Regions from separate parts of the Homo sapiens genome. Here region 2 is linked to region 1. Evidence: fine-mapped expression QTL. Tissue or cell type: esophagus mucosa. Region 1 holds a variant in brackets; the other region holds the start of a gene. All regions are shown on one strand. Distances are from middle to middle.

What was found. PIP is the estimated chance that this variant, and not a neighbour inherited with it, causes the effect.
Region 2: it holds the start of WNT11, and the variant in region 1 is fine-mapped to the expression of WNT11 in esophagus mucosa (GTEx, PIP above 0.99).

What each region holds. Positions count from the first base shown.
Region 1 is chr11:76,268,278-76,276,451 of GRCh38, reverse strand. No RefSeq gene overlaps it. Among named protein-coding and RNA genes, the nearest start is that of TRP-TGG2-1, 36 kb to the right of the region's middle. The variant C/T (reference allele first, on the strand shown) is at 4,165.
Region 2 is chr11:76,202,433-76,210,508 of GRCh38, reverse strand. It overlaps WNT11 (Wnt family member 11), which reads left to right and starts at 4,007. Exons shown (of 5, transcript NM_004626.3): 1 at 4,007-4,184. The coding sequence starts at 4,102. It overlaps LOC112268079 (a long non-coding RNA gene), which reads right to left and starts at 682. Exons shown (of 2, transcript XR_002957259.1): 1 at 590-682; 2 at 1-244. RefSeq lists silencers at 1-2, 2,655-2,874, 3,855-4,094 and enhancers at 215-881, 1,214-1,263, 882-1,548, 2,883-3,550.

The DNA of each region.
Region 1 (8,174 bases):
CCTGTCACATTCACTTAGCAATTTCTGCCTCACTTGAGCTTCTCATCAGGCCTGCATTTTACCCCTGGGAAACTGAGGCTTGATGAGGCGGTAGTCCCGGCTTTGCCATGTGACCTTAGGCAAGGCACCTCCCTTCTCTAGGCCAATGAAGAGGTCAGAGGAGACGTTCCCCTGGGTCTCATCTGCCCTCTGGAGTCTGTGTTTAGGTTTTGTGGTCTGGCCTCTGGGATCTTGACTGTTCCCACTCAGTTGGGGGGTGTAAGCCTGGGCCTGTGTGTGGGTTGCGTGTGTTGGGGAGGAGGGAGGCAGTTGTTTTTGGTCATCAGCTGGCCAGGCCAGCCCCTGGGGGTGCATCCTCGGAGCCCTATCTCTACATGAACTTTCTCTCATCCCCAAATTGCACACAAGGCACTTTTTGGGATCGATTTACCTCCCCTGTGGCCCCCCTGGCCCATTTTACATTTGTCAGGAAGAAATCGGAGGAGCCATAGCTGCCCTCCCTCACCTCACCCACCCCGGGGACATTCCAGGATTAGACAGGAGTGGAGGTGACAGCACAGAGAAGAATAAATCTTGAAAGACAAGGTTCCACATTTTCTCCATTTAGTACAAAGCAATGCATTCCAAAACCCAGTTCAGCCAAGGGGAGCGTGGAGGCTGGAGGCAGGAGAGGAGGGCAGAAGTCTAGATTTTGATAAACAGAACCTGCTCCCCGTGAGTAGGGATGCTCAGCCTGGGCCCACCAACAAGGCAACTGTGTCCTGGATTCATTGCCCGCTGACTGGCCAGAGTCTGACATTCTGGCCGCCCTCCACTGGCTATTCTAGCCACCATCCATCAGGTCATGCAAGGCATGAGGCCAGGAGGGAGCAGGGAGGCCTGGGGCTTTGCAAGGTGTGAGCCTCTGTGGCTGGAGGGTTTCAGCAGAGATAAGAGGACCACTGGGCGAGGAAGTTATATGAGGACCCCAGCCCGGCTCCAAGTCAGACAGGCGAGGGTTTGCCTGTTGGCTCCCTCTTCCACTAACTGGTTGCCTTTAGCAGTTGTCTGTTACCTGAGCCTCTGTTTTCTCATCCGTAACCTAAGGATGATTACACCTTCTCCCAAGATTGTTAGGGGGACCAAAAGTGGCAGTGTCTGTTCCATTCCCAGCCGGAGGCATAACAGTGGGAACAAAAGGAGTATCGTGGTAGTGGGATTTGCTGTGTCGCTGTCTCACTATGGTCACTGTAACAAATTCCCACAAACTCAAGGACTTAACACAAATGTATTACCCTACAATTCCATAGGACAGAAGTCCAAAATGTACTTTATTGGGCTAGCATCAGAGTGTCAGAACTGCGCTCCTTTACAGAGGCTCTGGGGAGATCCTGTTCTCTTGCCTTTCCCAGCTTCTAGAGGCTGCCCGCACTCCTTGGCTAGTGGCCCCCTTCCCTCCTCAAAGTCAGCGATGGCTGATTGAGTCTTTCCTGCCTCCCATCACTCAGACACAGACTCTTCTGCTGCCTCCTCTTTCACTTTCAAGGACGCTGTGCTTACAGTGGCACACCAGGTAATCCAGCATTATCTCCTGATTTTAAGGTCAGCAGACTAGCACCCGATTTCCGTCTGTGATCTTAATTCCCCTTTGCCATTTAACATAACATAGGCACAGGCTCCAGGGATCAGGCTGTGGACATCTTTCGGGTGGGGAGCATATTCTGCCTACCACTCCATTCAAGTAACTCATTTCTCCACCCAGGACAGGAAGACTTTGCTGTCCCTGTTCATCAGGAACTGGTGAATGCTGTGGACTGGTAGCGCCGTGTGCTGCTTTCCTTTCTTCTCCCTTTTCAGTAGGAATTGTTATTGCAGTTACCCAATTCTCTCTGCCATTATGGAGTCATGGTCTGTTGGAGGGATAATCTTTCAGCCACAGATTGCAAGACCTCAAGAATACATCTAACTCTGAAGGAAAATAATATAAGTCACCCAGAGATTCTGAACTCAGTATTATGAGTCTCTGATTTGTCTTCTATTTGAGAGAGGGGAGGAAGTGGGAAGGTATTATTTTGTGTGCAAGTAAAGGCATGCATAAATGTCAGCCCTCAAAGGGGTGGACTGTGTGGGCAGTTATTATCTTGTCCTCAACATCCTTTCCCCTTTTATTCTGGTGGCAGGACTCTGCTTTTGCTCTAAGGTAATTATTCCTCTCATCCACTCTTCCCTACTCATTGGCTCCTATATTTCAGATAGTGTTGTCCCCACCCCCAACTCCAGAGCTCCAGAGCTGGCCGTGAGACATAGGCCCCGTCAGTCAGAGCTTCACATATTCCTGGCCACAAGGACTTGTTCACAGATGGACTCACGACCCGTTAGAAGCAATGGGTTACATATTTGAATGCTTGCTGGGTCTACTGACAAAGGAGGACTCTTAACAAAATTTTTTTTGGCTGGACCTGAACCTGGAAGTTAATTTTATAGTTATCTTTTCACCACTTGGAGCCTAAAAATGAAGCCAACATGGGAACCAGGAGAACCGAGAGATGGAGCGAGCAGGTCCTGGGGGCAGAATTTGAGCCCCTAGATAAAGCCATGCCTGAAACTCTCATGCCCTTGGACTTTGCAGTTAGATGACTTAATATTTTTCTTTTCCTTCTTTGTTTTTTTGACTAAGCCAATTTTTGTCACTTTATGTGGCAATGAGATTGTTGATTATAAATCATATGCTTTAGCACTCTGTCGTTTATTTTTTGTTTATTTTATTTTTTGAGACAGAGTCTTGCTCTGTCACCCAGGCTGGAGTGCAGTAGCACAATCTCAGCTCACTGAAACCTCCGCCTCCTGGGTTCAAGCAGTTCTCCTGCCTCAGACTCCCAAGTAGCTAGGATTATAGGTGGGTGCCACCATGCCCAGCTTCTTTTTTTTTTTTTTTTTTTTTTTGTATTTTTAGTAGAGATGGGGTTTCATCATGTTGGCCAGGCTGGTTTCAAACTCCTGACCTCAAGTGATCTGCCTGCCTCAGCCTCCCAAAGTGCTGCGATTACAGGCGTGAGCCACCATGCCCGGTGCACTCTGTTGTTTATAAAGAGCATTTATATTCATACCTCATTTAATCACCACCTTAAGCTCACAAAGTAAGAATTATTAGCCCTATTTTTTTTTTTTTTTTGAGACAGGGTCTCACTCTATTGCCCAGGCTGGAGTGCAGTGGTGTGATCTCAGCTCACCGCAGCCTCCACCTCCTGGGTTCAAGCGATTCTCCCGCCTCCAAGCAATTCTCCCGCCTCAACCTCCCAAGTAGCTGGGAGTACAGGTGCGTGCCACCACACCCGGCTAATTTTTGTATTTTTAGTAAAGATGGGGTTTCTCCATATTGGCAAGGCTAGTCTTGAACTCCTGGCCTCAAGTGATCCACCAGCCTCGGCCTCCCAATGTGCTGAGATTATAGGCCTGAGCCACCAAGCCTGGCCTATTAGCCCTATTTTATAGTTAAGATAACTGATCCAGAGAGAGGAAATGTGATTTGTTCACAGTTGTGGCACATTAGGTAAGGGCTAGGGCTAGGTTTTCTAAGGTGATAACTAGTGTTTTTTCTCCTCTCTTGTGTCACCTTCGTGGAAGGTGAGGAATCAGAAGTTCTGGTAAGAAGTGGAGTTTGAGCTGAACCTTGAGGAATAGGTAGGAGTCCATTAGAAGAAGACAGGCCAAAGCTTTGGGGAGGGAAAGGGCAGGTGTGATGGAGAGAGGTGGGCAGTCTAGGGCCCATTGAGCCAGGCGATGTGAGGACAGGCACGCAGGTGGACAGGCAGCACCACCTCACTGCTGAATGGAGGGATTGCTACTTAAAAGTCCCCAGGGGCTGGGCACGGTGGCTCACACCTGTAACCCCCAGCACTTTGGGAGGCTGAGGTGGGAGGATCCCTTGAGGCCAGGAATTTAAGACCAGCCTGGGCAACATAGTGAGACCTTGTCTCTACGAAAAATAAAAACATTAACTGGGCATGGTGGCTCGTGGCCATGGTCCCAGCTACTGGGGAGGCTGAGGTGGATTACTTGAGCCCAGGAAGTTGAGTGAGCTGTGATCACACCCCTGCACTCCGGCCTGGGTGCCAGAACAAGACCCCATCCCCTGACCTCCACCCAAAAAAAGCCTCCCTGGGGATGTATATGAGACGGAGATGT[C/T]TAAGGAGGATAACGGTGGGTGCAAAGGGGCAGGGAACCAGGGCTGGATATTCAGGTCCCAACATCTGGGAGCACTGGCTTTGGAAGAGGCTGCAGGGTCTGTCCTGAGTTCCACAGATCACACAACGCGGAGTGGTGCCCACTTCACTGTTTCCAGAGGTGACTCTTTTGTTTCAGGTCTGGAGAAGGGGCCCACTGCCATGTTTTCTTGATGTCAGACAGTCCTGGGTTTCCATTTTGCCCCTTCTGCCTCCAAGATGTGTGACATTGGATGACTCACATCACCTTTCTGAACTGCAGTGCCCCATCTGTAATTACATCTTAAGCTCATAAAGTAAGAATGATTAGCCCTATTTTATTTTTTTTTTGAGACAGGGTCTCACTCTGTTGCCCAGGCTGGAGTGCAGTGGTGCGATCTCGGTTCACTGCAACCTCTACCTCCCAGGTTCAAGCGATTCTCCCACCTCCAAGCGATTCTCCCGCCTCAACCTCCCGAGTAGCTGGGAGTACAGGTGGGCGCCACCACACCCAGCTAATTTTTGTATTTTTAGTAAAGATGGGGTGCCCCATCCGTGGTGAGGATCATCCGCAATGAAAGTAAAGCATGGTGCTTGGCACTAGGTGGGTGCTCTGCGAACTGCGGCTATCACCACCACCTTCACCTTCATCGTCATCATCATCATAGTGGTCTAGACCCTCTCCTTCCATTCTTTCTCCCACTACAGCCAACACACAAGAAGCCTGATTCTTCTCACGGGCGCCTTTGGGCCTGGAGTTCTGTTTCTGGGCAGCTTGGAGCCGGGAGTCCGATTCCCTGCCCTGTGGAAGGAGACATTCAGTCCTTTGACTCGGGCCACTGTAACTCTTACCGTGACTGCAGGTCAGCACTTGTCCTTTCGTGCTTGTCCTCCTTTTCTGCTTGCTCCTCATGGGGCAAGCCTGTGTCTGTCTTGATCGGTGCCTCGCTCAGTGCCTGGTGTGTAGAAGAGGCTTCCTCAATGTTTGCTGGAAGAAAGGCTGAATGAGTGACCTGTGATTGAACTCCTGGAGTGAAGCAGAAGGCCTGGTGCCGTGGCAAGGCCTCCAGCCTCTGGGTTCCCTGGGAGGCCCTCCACTGACCTCCTGTGAAGAGGTGGTGGAGCAGGAGGAGCTGGTCCCGGCAGCTCTTCGAGATAGGTAAGATTTATCCTCATTTTAGAGTTGAAGAACTGACGTTCACAGGGGCCTGCCCATCATCAGCCTTCCAATCACTGGTGGCTGGGACTTGATCCAAGATCTGTGCCCAGGCCCTGCCTCTCTCAAAGCCCATCCACTGCTAATTTCAGTGCCCACAAATCTTCATGTTTATTTTCATCTGAATGTTTTATTTATTTCAACCATGATTTCTGTTTACAATAGAGGCTTTTGTTCTTCAAAATGATATTGGATAAACCTAGAAAAAGGGGCGATCATTCTTGAAGTGTTTTCCAAAGCCTATGATGATGAAGAGCTAGACTGGGGTGCCAGCTCCTACTATTGTTCTCCAAGACCTTAATGAAAGTCATTACACAAGTGAGCTGCTAACCTATAAGCAAATGTGTCAACCTACGTACAATCAGGCAATTCCCTGATCCCCATTGGCTATTAGCCAAGTGCTGGATATTATCCAGCTGAGTGGGTTGCACAACACTCTCCCTGGAGGGGTATTGTTGGATGGGAGGGATTTTCTAGCTTGTGACTTGGATGAACCTGGAGTTATTTCCCTATTGAGCAGCCCCAGCCTGAGAGGCACCAGCAGCCTCTGCTGAGGGGTGGCTGGGACAGAGTGGGGGTGTGGGCTGGCCCAGTCTGTCCATGCCTGGCCTGGTGGTGTGGCCCTCAGAAGTCTCATTAGGATTTAGCTCTACATAGTGGCCCAGGAGAGCTCTCTGGAAACCCAGCAGCCATGCTGGGGAGGGGGCCTGGTTTCCAGGGAAGCAGGGCACCCTGAGCTCAGCAGGGAGAGAGGGCCAGAGCCGGAGGAGAGGCCGGAGCAGCAGGGGAGGAGACCTTGGCCCTTGGAACTGAAGGGCCCAGGGTGGGGGGAGGACGCCATGTGGGAAGAGGGCAGGAAAGGGGGATTTGGCACAGGCCTCTGCTGCCTGGTCTCAATTTAGTTGTGAGGAGCCTCCTAATAGCCGGGTGAGAGCTGTGCACGCTTTCCTGAGAGCCTGCTAAGTGTTTATGGAATGATTTGTGAGGAGAAGTTTCTTTGGAAGCAGCTTGGGGAAGGTATGTTATTAAGAGCTCTTTCTCCAAGTTCCCCTTGGCCCGCTTCCCCCCTGGCCCCTGGGGTCTGGGCAGCCCTGGTCACAGCAGCTGTTTGCTATTTTGTAGGCCATGGGGCTGGGGAGCACACTGGGGCTGGGGGAAGATGGGGAAGTGGGGTGATTTCCTCCTCCCTGAGGCGGTGTAGGGCAGCCGAGGAGTGCTGGAACCACGGTCGGGAGTCTTCCTCTGAGCGGGAGCATGGCGTTCGCCACAGGGGCCCCAAAGGAGAGAGGTCAGCGGGCCAGAGGCAGCTGAGAGGTTACAGGCGATGGGGACAAAAGTGTAGCCACTAGCCATCTAGCAATGTGGAAGTCACTGGGGGTAATATGGACATGCTAAAAGGATGAGATGGGCCCATGGTTTGTCCACCAGACTGGGAGCTCCCTGGGGTCAGGGAATGTCTGATCATCTTGATGTCCTCCAGTGTCACTGGATACTTGGGGCTGGCCCAGGGCAGGGGCTCGGCTTGGTGAGTGGCGGGCCCCAGAAGGGCCTCTGAGCAGCTACTGACTCATTCACCTTCCCCCAGCCAAGCATCCCGCCCAGAGCAGGGTCATTCTAGCCAGACCAGGACACAGTGAGGACACTGGGCCAGCCCTGGAAGTTCAGTGAACTCTGAATCAATCTACGAATCGTCCTGTCAGCAGAAATTTGCCCAACCTGGTTGCCGCAGAACAGCCTGTATACCATCAGGTGAGAGCAGCTGGCTACATAGGTCTGCCAGGAAGGAGCCAGTGACTGGCCAATTCTGATTCTCTGAGACCCCTACCAGGACATGTGGACCCACCATGAATCTTTGTCCCAACCTACTGGCACAACAGCCTTGGGATATTAGAGTTTTTTAATCTCTGATTTTATAGCTGAGAAAACCAAAGCCCAGAGATTAAAGCCACACAGCTGAGGTCACACCATGAGTACCTGCCCAGGTAAGGATCAAACTCAGGTGCTCAAGACCAAAGCTGGTAGTCTTACCTGTAAGGTACATGGCCGAACACACCCCACTCTGTCATCTCACTTGGCCCATTGCATTGTCATTGTCTATGATGTCTACCTATACGTTTGACTCCCCACTTACCTGACAGCTCCCTGAGAATAGGAGTCAGGTTGGCTTCATCCTTGGTCCTTAAGTCCCTGTACAGTACAGGGCCTGGCACAGAGGAGATGGGTGGATGATGGATAGATGGGTGGATGGATGGGTGATGGGTAGATGGATAGATGAATGGATGGATGGAGGATGGATGGATGGATGGGTGGATGGATGGGTGATGGATGGATGGGTGGATGGATGGATGATGGATGGATGGATGGATAGAGGATGGATGGATGGATGGATGGAGGATGGATGGATGGATGATGGTTGGATAGAGGATGGATGGGTGGATGGTGGATGGATGGGTGATGGATGGATGGATGGGTGGATGGTGGATGGATGGGTGATGGATGGATGGATGGATGGTGGAGGGATGGATGGATGGATAGATGGATGGTTGGATGGGTGATGGGTGGCTAAACTCTAGGTCAGAATTTGGAAGACAGAATTCCAAGTAGAAGCATCTTCATAAGCAAATTAGCAAAGCTCACAGCATGGTGGGGGTCTTAGAGAGTGGTCTTCCTATAGTGAAGAGGTGTGTGCCTTTGTAGCAGTGATCTCAACAGGTGTCAAGTACCGCACCAAAGGACTGTTCTGGCAATTTGCGGGAGTGGGTTTTAATGTTATGATG
Region 2 (8,076 bases), 66 kb after region 1:
CGGGCACGCAGGGCGCGCCTGGCGAGCGCCCCGGGAGGTGAGCAGTGGTCGCGGGCAGCGGGCAGCCGCTCAGCGGGGACCCGCCAGGGCTGGGGGCGCCCGAGTCCGAGGGGGACGACGCTTCTCGCACCCGCCACGACCCCCTTGGGCACCCACTCCCGGGTAAGCAAACCAAGCGCTCCTCCATACCTTTCCCCCGCAGCACTCCGAAGAGTTCCCCTTTGCGGAGCGAAGCCTCGGGAGCCTGGGGACGCGGGGTTTAGGGGCACGCGGGACGGTGGTGGGTTGTGCAGTTCCTGCGGCCCTCCTCGAACTTTCCCGGCCCGGCCCCCCTCTTCTGCCCCCGCACCCCAGGCGACCCCCTCCTTCCCAGTCGTTCGGCGGATGAGGTCATGCCCGAGCCACCCCCGGGGGTGGGGGACTTGGATCCCGCGACAGAGGGTGTGTGTGGTGGGCGGGGGGAAAGGGTGGCAAAAGGCAAAGAAATGCGGCAGCGCCTAGTAAATTGGGGATGGGGGCAGAAGCCTGGCTTTGAGAACGGGTCCCAGGGGCGGCGGGGGGAGGGGGAGAACCGAGTTTGTTTACTGACCTGAGCTCCAGGCTGGGGGCTAGGGAGGAGGAAAGTCCTGTCCCCGGCCCCGAGGCACATCTGCAACCGCCCGGAACATCTGGCTGAGCTCGCGCACGAGCTCCACGCCTCCCACCCCCGGGGCTGAAGTGCCTCGGTGTCCCTCAAGGCCCTGGGCGTGCAGGGTCCGGCTCCAGGGGGTTAGCAGGAGGGATCTCGAGTGCTCCCACCCACCCTTCCCACTTCCAAAACAACCCGTCTCCCGGGTGACCCGGCGCCGCGTGCGCAGCCAAGCAGACGTCTCTCGAAAGCCTCACGGCTGGGGTCAAAGCCGGGTGGCAGGCCCGGCCTCGCCCCGCCCCGCAGGTAACCTTGAAGCCGTCGCTCGGCGTCCCTGGTTGGCGGGGTCAGCTCCGTGAGCTGCGTGGCGGGAGGCTTCGGGACCCGCCCGTGCCGACCTTGCGCGCCGCGCGGACAATCGGCCCCGGTGCACGGTGCCCGTGGGGCGTCGGGGTAGGGGGGACCCCGCAAGTCCTCGCCGGGCCGGCGTGGCCTGGTCCCAGCGGCCGGCTTTCCAGAGTCCTCCACAGACCGGGCCTATGACCATCTGTTGGCGGCGCTGGGCTGCGGCGCTGCGCTCGTGGTGTTCTCCCTGTGCACAGCCCCAGGCGGCCGCCTCCCGGGCCCGCTGCAGGCAGGGTAGCTCGGACCAACTTCGAGGAGGTGACCGCTCGCTCTCCAAAGGTGCTACGCCTGGCGCGGCCCACTACGCGCCCGGCCCCAAGCAAGGGGCCGGGCAGGTCAGGGCGGCCCACGGCAAGTGTCCTATAGAACGACCAGGACACAGGGGGCACTCCCTCGACACGTCGTCCCATCCCCAGACGGAGAAGCGGGGGCCCAGGAAGAGGACTTGACCCCAGCCCGCGACGCAGGAGGCAGCCGCGATTCCCCCCTCCTCGAGCCCCGGCTTAGCGCCCCCTGGCGGGCTGGGGGCTTCAGGAGGCGCGTGCACCCTGACCCGCGAGCTCAGGCGGAAGGTGACCCCGTGGCCTGCGCGGCTGTCCCGGGCGCTCGTACAAGGGACAGGAACAGTCCGTCAGGACCCAGAGGCTCGGGCCAGGCGCTGCCTCCCCGCGCGACGAGCTTGGGCGGCGGAGGGAGAGCCTTGGGACAGCCGGGGCTGCACCGAAAGAGCTGGGCGGGGCTGGAGGCCTGGGTCCCCGTCCGCTGTGCGACCTAGGGGGCTCCTCCTCTCCCTGGGAGACCAGGCTGGACACAGATCCCCCGCTGTGAGTCCGCGCGCCTCCGTCCTCTTGCAGCCCCCGCCCCCTCCCCACCCAGGAATGCCGGGTGCCTTCGGGGGGCGGCGCACTTTGGGAGAGGGGAAGACGGTGACTGGAGTTTTGATTCCCCCCTCCATATCCAGCGGATATTTTTCTCGTTCTGAGAAGTGCAAGAAACTTGCAGGACCAGGAAGACAAAGGATTTGGATACAGGCTGGGTGGGAGGACGGGACTGGGTTACACCGAGAACCCCTCTGAGACCCCCAGCCTTGACGGCATGTTTGTCGCAGGCGCCCCTGTGCTGGGCGCTAGCTGCGGGGCTCTGCGGAGGAAAAAAACTGTACGATCCAGGCTTCTCCTCGCCTTCCTGTGGGTTTTGCCGACAGGCTCCAGAAAACAGTGGGGCTTCCCATCTCTGCGTGCTGACTACCCACGCGCAGGAACGCGCCACGCAGGTGGCGTCGCGGTGCAAATAGCAGAGGGGCGCTGAGCCCCGCAGGCTGCAGGGAGACGGGGTCCTCGGGGGACGCACGGCGAAGCCCCATTCCTCGTTCTTATGGAAGGGGACACCGAGGCTGGGGTGGCTGAGGGCTTGCCCAAGCTCACAGAGCCAGATAAGAACGTCCCTTTTCTGCTCCAGCGCCCCCACTACCGTGGGCGCCTCCTTTTCCAACTCCCCAAACCCTTAGAAAGGAATCCCTTTGTCTCTGCTCCTCCCGAGGGGAGAGGGGCTGGGGCTGTGTCTGACTCCGGGCGAACGCCAGGTGTTGGTAAATTTGGGAGAAGCTGGGAAGGGAGTTAATGAGGTGAGAATGAAGTGAAGGAGAAAAAAAGCGGAGATAGCTGCTCCGCGGGCTGCGGGCGGGCGGGGCAGCCTCTCCTCCGCGGCCCGAGGGCGCCGCCTGGAGGCCAGAGGCAACACCGCGCCAGCCCCGCGAGCTTCCCCGCTTCGCTAAGGCGGGGCTGCCCAGTCCCAGCCCGCATGCTTCCACTCCCACCCTCCAAAGTGGAGCGGCTAAAGACGGACTTGGAGACTCGGAATCCTCACTGTACAAAGAGCCCTACCATCCCGTTTCCCATCCTCCCCTTCCCACACCGAGAAAGCAGGGCCCCGAGCAAGCCCCATTTCCTGATTTCGCCGGACACCCGGCTTGCCGCTCCCTAGCTGAACCCCACCTCTGTGCCTCAGTTTCCTCATCTGTGAGATGAGGCAGCGATAGTGCCTATCTCACGGGGTGCTGGGAGGAGCAGATGCGATCGTGTTAGGGAACTTTTTTTGTTTGTCTGTTTGTTTGAGACGGAGTTTCGCTCTTGTCGCCCAGGCTAGAGTGCAGTGGCGCAATCTCCGCTCGCTGCAACCTCCGCCTCCCGGGTTCAAGCGGTTCTCCTGCCTCAGCCTCCCGAGTAGCTGGGATTACAGGCGCCCGCCACCACGCCCGGCTAATTTTTTGTATTCGTAGTAGAGACGGGGTTTTGCCATGTTGGGCAGGCTGGTCTCGAGCTCCTGACCTCAGGTGACCCGCCCGCCTCGACCTCCCAAAGTGCTGGGATTACAGGCGTGAGCCACCCTGCCCGGCCAGGGAACGTTCTTTATAAAAGCGGAATTGTGCCCGAATTGCCCCAGCTTACTGAGGAGGTAAACTGAAACACGTTTGGGAAGGAGAATTGCCGAGGCCCTATTAACTAATGCTCAATATTGCAGGGATAAGCCCCAGCTCCGGGTCCTCGACTCTGCTGCCTCGCCTGGACTCCTGATTCCTCATTCCTCTCCTTTCCGTCCCAGGTTGCGTCTGTCCGGGTTTCCCCCTCTGTCTCCGTGGCTCTCAGCCTTGTCCTCTGAGCGTCCTTCTCCCTCTCGCTGTGTCTGCCCGGTCTCTCCTGGGTCTCCGGTTCTGCCGCCTCCTGTCCCTCCTTCCGGCTGCCCCGGCCAGAGGGGCTCGAAGGCGCGTTGGGGCCCGGGGCCACGCTGGGAGACACGCCTTCGGCCGCGCCTAATTCGAGCCAGGCGCGGGACGCGTCCCCCGGCCGGGCGGAGCGGGAGGGGACGCCCGCCGCGCTCGGCCTCCCCGGGCCCCGACCCCTCCTTTGTAATTTGAATAAAACGCCTCCCCCGCCCGCGCGCCGCCTTAACCCGCCGCCTCCGCTCTCCCCGGCTGCAGGCGGCGTGCAGGACCAGCGGCGGCCGTGCAGGCGGAGGACTTCGGCGCGGCTCCTCCTGGGTGTGACCCCGGGCGCGCCCGCCGCGCGACGATGAGGGCGCGGCCGCAGGTCTGCGAGGCGCTGCTCTTCGCCCTGGCGCTCCAGACCGGCGTGTGCTATGGCATCAAGTGGCTGTGAGTAGGGACCCCGCGTCCACGCGCACAGGCCAGGGACTGGGGCGGCGGAGGGCGTTTTGGGGTCCCCTGGATGGGGCGAGCGCACCAAGACCCGGGAGCCTAAGCTGGCTTGGCGGTCGTGGGCAAGTCATCCCTCAGCCTCTGTTTCCTCCTCTGTAAAATGTCCCTGCCTCCCGCAGGCTTGCGAAAAGGGAGTGAGACGGGCGTGGACCACAATGGAAGCGCCTGGTCCTGTGCAGCTGACGGTGGCGCAAGGGCCACGGAGTTTCTGGCCACCTCCGCAGGGGCAGATGGAAAAAGACATTCTGTTCAGGGGGCGCAATCCAGAGCGGCCAGCCCAGGAGCGGTCCTTGTCCGTCAGTCTCCTTGACCCTAGCGGGAGTTCCGCTGAGACACTCCTGACCCCTCCACCTGGGCGACCTTGGGAAAGTGTCACTCTACTTCTTGGGGCCTCCTTGTCCTCCTCTGTCACGGGAGGGTGAGACTCCCCACCTCCCTCAAATCAGATGAGAAGAGGCTCCTGAAAGGACCTCAGAAGCTGTCAGATGCCACTGTGCACATGTGCAGGGCATTCCTTTAGATAGAAATTATTCACGCAGGGGTAGGAGGGAGAGAGAGGCTTGGTGCCGAGCTGAAGGGAGTGCCTGCTCAGGGGGCTGGGGGTGGTGAAGAGAGGAGTAAACACCAGCCCCTTCCCGGAGGAGCTGCGCTCTAAGTTGAGAGAGATAAGCCCAGGCTGTAAATAACTCCACAAGTGTCCAAGTGCCCGAGGAGAAACCAGAGCGGGAATCTGGAGGCCTAGAGGAAGGAAGCCCACCTGGTGGGGACACAGATGTGAGACACCGGGAAGCTTTTCCGAGGCTGTGCCTCTGGTGACTGAAGCGCTGCTGGGAGTTGGCTGGTTCGGGCAATGGAGAGGACGCTGTGGGCAGAGGGGCTCCCTGAGAGGGAAAGTCCAGGACAGGACAAGGGTCTGGAATCTGGGGCCAGGGCAGGGAGCCTGCAGATAAGACAGCAGGGGGCAGGTTGTGGGGGCTGGGGAGGGCGCTGCAAAGGGTTTGTGAATTAGTTGGAAGACAGGGTGATAGTGGCTGCGCCGCCAGCAAACAGTCTGGAGGTCACTGGCCCTGCCCCTTCTCAGGCCAAGTTATTGATTAATTGACGATTCGAGGAGGGAACCCCGTCTTCCTGCCTTTCTTGTTTACAAGAAGCCTGGTCTCAGCAATCTCCCAGCCCTGGGCACTAGCTTTTCCCAGCTGTCCCTGAGGAGTTCTGTGAGAAACCAGCCACCTTCCTTTTGCAATGGGGTACCCAGCACTGTTCCAGCTGGCAGGGACCTCCGATCAGCGAGTCCAAGCTCTCTCATCCACCGCCACCATTTTACAGATAAGGATACTAAGGTCCAGGGAAGGAGAGGATTGGCTGAAGGAGCGTCAGAGGCCTTGCAGTGGGCTTGGGTGTCATTTGCCGCCCATAAGAGTCCTGTGGGGTCACTGCCATCATCCCTGCTCCACAGTGGGAACACCGAGACCCTGCAAAGGGCATGATGCACGCAAGCCCCCACGCTGGCCTGTGGTGGGATGGACGGCTGGCTAAACCTGACGTCCATGTCCTCTGTCCCCACTGCAAAGTCAGGCTGCCACAGAAATGGGTACAACTCATTGTGTGCCTTAAATAAGCCCCCAGGCTCTTGGGGGAGATGGACATATAGAAATACAAAGTGGACTATGGTCTGTGTCCTAGCAGAGGGAGCATGGCAGCCCAGAGGAGGAGTGATCAGTTCTATCTAAGGGAGATGCATAGGCCAGGATTGGAAGGACAGGGAGGATTTGGATGGTCAGAGACGGAGTGCAAAGCAGGCGTCCTAGGCGGGAGGCACAGCACGAGCAGAAGCCTGGAGGCCGAACAGCGCATGCGGGGAGACCTGGAGAAACCAGGCACCACAAGAGCCTACTCCTAAGTGCCCCAGACGCTGCTCCGAGAGCTTGGGTCATGTAAGTTAGATCATACTGCACTCCTATGAGAAACTGATAGTCTAGCAATAGGGGATTAAAGTCTTGCTAGAGTTTAAGATAGAGGGGGAGGTGGGAAAAGGGGTGGAGTTTAAGAATAACAACGATCTGTGTATGCATGTGTATATATAGATACACGTGTGTAGGCCACGTGCATATATCTATGTATATGTACATATATGTCTACACACACATGGCCTCACTTTGTGCTAGGTGCCGTTCTAAGTGCCTTATGTATATTGTTCCATTTAAATATCCCAACCACCCTGTGAGGTGGGTGCTGCTATTACCCCCGTTGCACAGAAGAGGAAACAGAGACTGGGGCACACAGAGATGGGGGACTCTACCTAGCAGGGTGTCACAGCTCAGAGGTAGTAGAGGCAGGATTTGAGTTAAGCTGCCTAGCTCTGTGGACTGTTGGGCACAGGGAGCCCCAGCACAGCTGGGAGCAGGGAAGTGTTCAGTGAGGCTGGAAAGCCGGGGACTCACCCAGGAGCCTCCGCTGGCCTGGGCTTTGGAGAGTGAGCTGGAGATGAAAGGGGCACTTGGCACAGGAACTGAAAGCCAACATGGCCCAGTGGCCTGGAATGCTCACCTGGTGGGTGCCTGGGACGCAGGCTGAGCTGGTGGGATGGGGGCTGGGGAGAGGGGATCAGAACCTGGCTGCCCATAGAGGCACCTGCCCAGAAATAACCTGGGGATCCTTCCCTACCTTACCTCCACCCAGGCCAGGCACCAGAAGACTCCCAGCCCCTCAAGTATTCGGGGTCCCAGGTCTGGGCTGTCCACCCCCTTCTTGGCTTTCCTGGGTAGGGGGAGGGTTTGAGGGGAGTCCCACTCTCCTGTGAACCACGGAAGCGGTGGGGTGAGAGGAAAGGCCCAGGCCGGTTGGGAACATCCATAAAGGCCGCCCCCTTCCCTGGGCAGTCCCACACCTGCCACTCCCACGGAGGTGGGGCCAGGAGGCTCTAGAGGGCCATGGCGCTGCAGAGTAGGGTGGAAGGAGCGCCAGACTGGGACTGCAAGGCCCAGCCTGAGTTCTGCAGGTCAATCGCTTTAGCTTCTCTGAGCCTCAGTTTCCTCAGCTCTAAGATAGAGGTAGAAGGAGCCCTACCTCAGGATGCAGGAGGCCTGGGGTCTAGCTTGTCTCTGCCTCTGATTGGCTGCGTACAGATCTGGGCAAGCCCTGCCCTTTCCGGGCCTCAGTTTCCCCACTTGCACAGTGGGAGTTCATGATGCTGTGGCAGCTGCCGTTTGGTTTCTTGGTTGAGAAGCATCAGACCAAGGCCTGTTAGGGCTTTACCTTTGCAAGATGGGCTGCACAGGTGGGTCAGCATGTGTGAGGCCAAGGGGACAGGCTTCCATCTCTGAGGTCTGGGCAGTCAGGTGTGAAGGGGACCCAGTGTCATTTCCAGGCAGGACTGGATCTGCAGGCTCAAGGCCCTTCATCAGCCTCCATTTCTCTATCTATACAGTGAGGACAAGGGCTGGACTAGTCCCTCTTCACTCTGGAGTCCTGGGACAAAGCCCAGGAGGGAGAGAACAGGAGGACTCTCAGGCTGTGGGGCCCCAGGGGCTTCTTCTTCCTGAACGGGCAGCTGCAGCCCCAAGCTGGGATGGCTGGTGAAGAAGGGGCACTTCCGAGGTTCCTAGACCTCTCCCCGGTTCCTAGACCTGGTGCCTAATTGAAGAGTTAATTGAGGAGTCGTGGAGGGAGAGCTTCCCCAAGGTTGCCCCAGGGGAGTAGACGGAAGCCTGGGGAGAGGCTGGGCTTGCCTGGGTGGCCTAGAGCCTGGGGTCCTGCTCCATCCTCCCTGCCACATGGGCACCAGCATGAGGTGGGGCCCAGGAAAGCCCAAAGAGACACGGGGAAAGGA